Homo sapiens: one gene and its partner. The protein of the gene in region 1 purifies or fractionates together with the protein of each later gene. This does not show direct contact. Each region holds a gene or a part of one and is shown on either strand. Other genes may lie near its edges.

The links. The genes of interacting proteins can lie anywhere in the genome.
Region 2: the proteins of NUDT12 (region 1) and SIRT2 purify together in Homo sapiens (affinity purification with mass spectrometry; 3 studies listed by BioGRID and IntAct, with this or other methods). This does not show direct contact.

The regions. Positions count from the first base shown.
Region 1 is NC_000005.10:103,548,304-103,550,679, reverse strand, and holds the end of NUDT12 (NAD-capped RNA hydrolase NUDT12), read left to right. Parts: 3' UTR 1-1,825; downstream 1,826-2,376. UniProt on the Homo sapiens protein: mRNA decapping enzyme that specifically removes the nicotinamide adenine dinucleotide (NAD) cap from a subset of mRNAs by hydrolyzing the diphosphate linkage to produce nicotinamide mononucleotide (NMN) and 5' monophosphate mRNA.
Region 2 is NC_000019.10:38,882,616-38,886,273, reverse strand, and holds part of SIRT2 (NAD-dependent protein deacetylase sirtuin-2), read left to right. Parts: intron 1-2,517; coding exon 2,518-2,647; intron 2,648-3,658. UniProt on the Homo sapiens protein: NAD-dependent protein deacetylase, which deacetylates internal lysines on histone and alpha-tubulin as well as many other proteins such as key transcription factors.

The DNA of each region.
Region 1 (2,376 bases):
AATATTGCCTCAGATTATGTTAAATTTGGGTCAGTCTTCTCTGAACTTTTTCTCTCTTGGTTTCTTTTCTTCCTTCACAGTTTTATCTCACAAAACCATTTTTCTAATAAGAGACATCATGTTGGAAAGATGTTCTAGAAATGTGCATAAATTTCAGTGCCTCTTGTAAGCATTAAACTGATGATGAAGAAAGTTCCTGATTTGAGAAATGAATCAAAGTAATTTTAATGAATTTTTAGCTTGTATTAGCTTGAGTTAGCTGGCATTGATTTTTTAGTCCTTTTGTTACCTTTAAGTTGTCAATATATGGTTTTTGTTCATCTCCCCATTGTAGTCCCACTTGCTCTTTCCTGGGGGTTCCATTGTTCTAGCAGTGGAGGTGTTATAGTGTCGCCACTCGTCTAATTTGACCAGTGTTAAGAATTTTCTAATTTAATAATTTAATAGTGATCTCAATACCACACCCTCATGGAAGGAGAAAAGCATACTATTATATCTGGGACCTCTCTTTTAGACCTAAAATTAATTAACATATCTACTTATATGTTACTTATACCTAAAGCTGTTATTAAGACAAACCAAGATTCTCTGCTTTTGCACTGAAATTAAACTTGAAAGGAATTCTCCTCAAAGGTCGGATATTAAATAAGTCCCAGGCAGATTTACATATTTAATTTAAAACATTGGCTTTATTTCATTTTGTGATGAGTGATGTATCTGTGTTAACAAAAAATTGTATAATCATTACCAATACTATTTATTATGCTCAAATATATCTTGGCTTTGACCTTATTTCAACACATTCTAAGAAGCCTTGACAAAGTAAGTATATTTTAGAGCTGAATCAGTAAGATTCTAGAGAAAGCAAAACATAGTAGTTCACAATTTTGCAACATAGAAAGTCACATTTTGAAAGGCTATTTTGAAATTGATTTAATAGCTATTATAGTTTATGAATATCAAAATTTGTATAATTTGCATCTTTACTAATGTATGCTAGAGCTACAAGAGACCTTAAGGATAATATATGAAATTAGCTTTCCTTATTTTATAGATAAGGAAAAAGAAATTGTGAAAGGTGAATTTACCTAATTAGTGAAAGTTACATAACTAATTACAACAGTCTGTACTATATAATGCAGAGGACGATTCTCCCTGTAAAAGGAACTAGAAGCTATTACTAAAAATATATATAGACAAAATTAAAAGAAGGAATGATAAGAATAAATTTAATTTACCAAATATTGTTAATTAAAATTTTAGATACTTAACATTTATTTAACTTAAATAAAAGATAACTGTCAGATAAAACTTTATTTTACTAATGAGCAGTGATTTTCTTAGGAATTGATGAAGGCTTATTGGTATCAAGAATTTAAACCAAATTAAAACTGACAGAGGACATTTAGATACATAATAAAATTCGAGCTACATAAGTATATGGAAAATAATGTACCTTGATTATTATGAAATAGAGCATCTTGAAATTCAGTTTTACTCTAAATGTACTTTTAATACTTGCAGATTCTAAGATTACATTGTAAAATTCCAGGTTTTCATAATGTTAAAATAGGAAAGTAGAATATAAAGTATCAACAAGTGTAGTTATACATTTTGTTTTGGATATTTAATCCTTACTTGGGAAAAAATCAGCATCTAGGTAAATTATTATTTTAATAACAACTCTTAAATTGCCAACCTCTGAGAGGTGAAAAGCTATGTAAATAGAAGGAATGGCCAGTTCAAAAGAATAGTAGATGTGATAGTGCCGTGAATGTATTCTACTGGAAATGAATGTAATAATACATTAAATTTTTAAAATCTATTTTGTTTTGTGTGTGTGTTTAACATGTTTTGACAAGTGTCCTGAAAAATGAGAAAAGCTGGATTTCAGTCGTTAACCTGTTTCGAATTGATAATGTACAAGAAATGCAAAAGCCTTTTTAAAAGTGTCTGTGTTTGGGAGACTTAAAACTTTGATTTGAATCTTAAAGTATAGTTTGGGGTCAAATACAAACAGACTTACATATATACATACATATATAAAGTCAATAATTTTTGTTCTTCAGGTTTAAAGCGATATATCTAATTTTTATTACTTGTCTAATACTGCTAATTGTTGGATTTTGATATTTTCACATGTTGATGGAACATGAAGAGTTAGAAGCCCACATATTTTATTTAGTTGGAAAAATGAGAAATTCTTTTAAAGACCCAGTTAGGGATTTGGCTGAAGACAGAAAATAATAGGATAACAAAGGGAGAGACCAAGATGGAAGGAGGAAGAATAAGTTTGTTAATAAGCCAAATTAATCCCACATAACAACAATAGATAGCTGGTCCTGGAACTGTGTTGCTAATGTGGATACAACAAAA
Region 2 (3,658 bases), on another chromosome or scaffold:
GGAAAGTTACAGGGCGTGTGGGAACAGTGACAGTGACTCTTGTCTGTAGGCTTTGGAGATAAGGTGGTTGCTGGTAGGGAGCCCAGAAGGCAGTTAGAGCATTCTTTCTGCCCTTGAAGGGAAACAAACCCTTCCCGTTGTTTCTGGAGTCCCTGGGAAACGCTGTCAGTTTGGCCCTGGGCCACACATGCGAGCCATCTCTGCGTAACCTCTGCCAGTGTCCTCTGTCAGCACCTGTTTTAGCGGCATTCCTCACAGGCAAACAACAGCTGCTCCAAAGGGGGTGGTTGTTTTAAGAAAAATGAGCGCGCACAAATGTCTGTGCAGAAAAGAACATTCCCACCTGTTTAATATGGAAAGTCTCACTGTCTTAAAAGAAAACAGTGGCCGGGCGCAGTGGCTCACACCTGTAATCCCAGCACTTTGGGAGGCTGAGGTGGGCAGATCACGAGGTCAGGAGATCGAGACCATCCTGACCAACATGGTGAAACCCCGTCTCTACTAAAAATACAAAAATTAGCTAGGCATGGTGGCGCGTGCCTGTGTTCCCAGCTACCTGGAAGGCTGAGGCAGGAGAATCACTTGAACCTGGGAGGCGGAGCTTGCAGTGAGCCAAGATTGCGCCACTGCACTCCAGCCTGGCAACAGAGCAAGACTCCGTCTCAAAAAAAAAAAAAAAAATAGCCACGCATGGTGGCGGGTGCCTGTAATCTCAGCTACTTGAGAGGCGGAGGCAGGGAGAATTGCTTGAACTCAGGAGGCAGTGGTTGCAGTGAGCCGAGATAGCGCCATTGTACTCCAGCCTGGGCAACAAGAGTGAAACTCCATCTGAAAAAAAAAAAAAAGAAAAGAAAAGAAAAGAAAACAGTGGCTGGGCATGGTGTCTCACGCCTGTAATCCCAACGCTTTGGGAGGCTGAAGTGGGAGGATCACTTGAGCCCAGGAGTTCAAGACCAGCCCGGGCAAATAGGGAGACCACCCCACCCCCCATCTCTACAAAAATAATTAAAAAGATAAAAAATTAGCCGGGCATGGTGGCATTTGCCTGTAGTCCCAGCTACTCAGTGGGCTGAGGTGGGAGGATGGCTTGAGCCCAGGAGGTGAAGGCTACAGTGAGCTGTGATCAGACCACTACACTCCAGCCTGAGTGACAGAGCAAGACCCTGCCTCCAAAAAAAGAAAAGAACACAGGTGAATATGCCATCTATGAAACAGGCCATAGTAAGAAAGGACCCTGGCTACTAAAGGGGAAGATAGTGATTAAAGCCAAGGAAGGGCCAGGCATGATGACTCACACTGTAATCCCAGCACATTGGGAGGCTGAGGCAGAAGGCTCGCTGACCAGCCTGGGCAACATAGTGAGACCCCATCTCTACAGAAAATTTTAAAAATCAGCCAGATGTGGAGGCTGAGGTGGGAGGATTGCTTGAGCCCAGGAGTTGGAGGCTGCAGTGAGCTATGATTGTACCACTGCACTATAGCCTGGGCGACAGAGTGAGACCTTGTCTCAAATACATAAAAAAACATGGCTAGGCACAGTGGCTCATGTCTATAATCCCAGCACTTTGGGAGGCCGAGGCAAGCAAATCACGAGGTCCAGAGTTCGAGACCAGCCTAGCCAACATGGTGAAACCCCATCTCTACTAAAAATACAAAAATTAGCCAGTCATGGTGGTGCGTGCCTGTAATCCCAGCTACTTGGGAGACTGAGGCAGGAAAATCTCTTGAACCTGGGAGTCAGAGGTTGCAGTGAGCCGAGATTGTGCCACTGCACTCCAGCCTGGGTGACAGAGCAAGACTCCATCTCAAAAAACAAACAAACAAACAAACAAACAAACCACACCTAGTAAGCCCTCCTGATTCATTTATGTTAATGCTTGCCTAGAGCTGCCACATGCAGCTGTGCAGGGTGCGCACTGCACAAGGATGCCACATCTGAGGGGGCTCCATTAATAACAGAGACATTGTAAATGTATGTTAATTTCAGCAATTAATGACAGGTGGAAATAAAGCATCTGGCTCTAATAAAACAACATTTTTTTTCTGAAAAATGAAAGCAAATGGCCTGAATTTGCAGAATAAAAGCCACACAGGCTGTGGAGTGGCTGTGGGCCTGGCCTCATAGATATTTAGGTTTGGGCCCCTTTTTTTTTTTTTTTTTTTTTAATTTTTTGTAGAGACAAGCGTCTTGATATGTTGCTCAGGCAGGTCTTGAACTCCTGGCCTCAAGTGATCCTCCCACCTCAGCCTCCCAAAGTGCTGGGATTATAGGCGTGAGCCGCCATGCCCAGCCTGGCCCCTGCCTTTAAGCAGCCTTGACTGTCACCCTTTAAGTGGCACCATTGGGATGAACAGAAGAGTCTTCAGATAAACCCTGCCACTTGCTTCTCCTCCCTCCCTTCTCCACCTGTCCCCACCACCTCACTGCTCCTCGTGGCCCTCAACTCCCTACTGTGCCTTCTGGCCTACAAGGGGTGGCTCACTCCTCACCCCTCTTCCCTCCATCTCTCCCTCTAGAACATAGATACCCTGGAGCGAATAGCCGGGCTGGAACAGGAGGACTTGGTGGAGGCGCACGGCACCTTCTACACATCACACTGCGTCAGCGCCAGCTGCCGGCACGAATACCCGCTAAGCTGGATGAAAGGTGAGGCTGGAGGGCATCCTGAGGGCAGGCCTCCTCTCAGCACCAGGAGCAGTGTCTCCATGCAGTGGGCACCCATTCTGTCCTGCTCAATTCTTTGGGGTTTTTTTGTTTTGTTTGTTTGTTTTTGAGACAGAGTCTCACTCTGTCGCCCACGCGGGGAGTTCAGTGGGTGATCATGGCTCACTGCAGCCCAACTGCCTGATTTCCTGTCTTTGGCTGTTTTTAATATATGATAGTAGGCCAGGAGCAGTGGCTCACACCTGTAATCCTAGCACTTTGGGAGGCCAAGGCGGGCAGATCACCTGAGGTCAGGAGTTCAAGACCAGCCTGGCTAACATGGTGAAACCCCGTTTCTACTAGAAATACAAAAAAAAAAAAATTAGCCTGGTGTGGTGGCATGCGCCTGTAATCCCAGCTACTCAGGAGGCTGAGGCAGGAGAATCGCTTGAACCTGGGAGGCGGAGGCTGCAGTGAGCTGAGTTCGCACCATTGCACTCCAGCTTGGGCAACAAGAGCAAAACTCTGTCTCAAAAAAAAAAAAAAAAAAAAAACAAGAAGTCACTTATTCCACTCATGGAAAGCCATTTCTGACATTCTTTATGCTGATTTAACAAAGCCTCTGGTGTCCCTGTGAGATAAGGACAGCTGCAGCATTTGCAGAAGGGCCTCTGGAGTGTGGCTGTTCTGATAAAATGCCAGCTGAGTGCCCCTGGGCTGAGGATTCCTGAATAGCCCAACTGCAAGCAGCTGGGGGCAGTGTACAATTCACATTACCCCCATTATGTGTCATTGACAGCAGCGTCACAGGCAGCACCCACGGTGTCATGCTGTCCATGCAGAAATATTTTAAAGAAAATTACCGACTACTGACATTGAAACAATGCTTTATAAATGTGTGCTGAATGAATGAATGGACAGTTGAGCAAATGACTTAGAATTCAGTGGGTTGCAAGTGACAGAAATGCTTTCTTTCTTTCTTTTTTTTTTTTTTGAGATGGAGTCTTGCTCTGT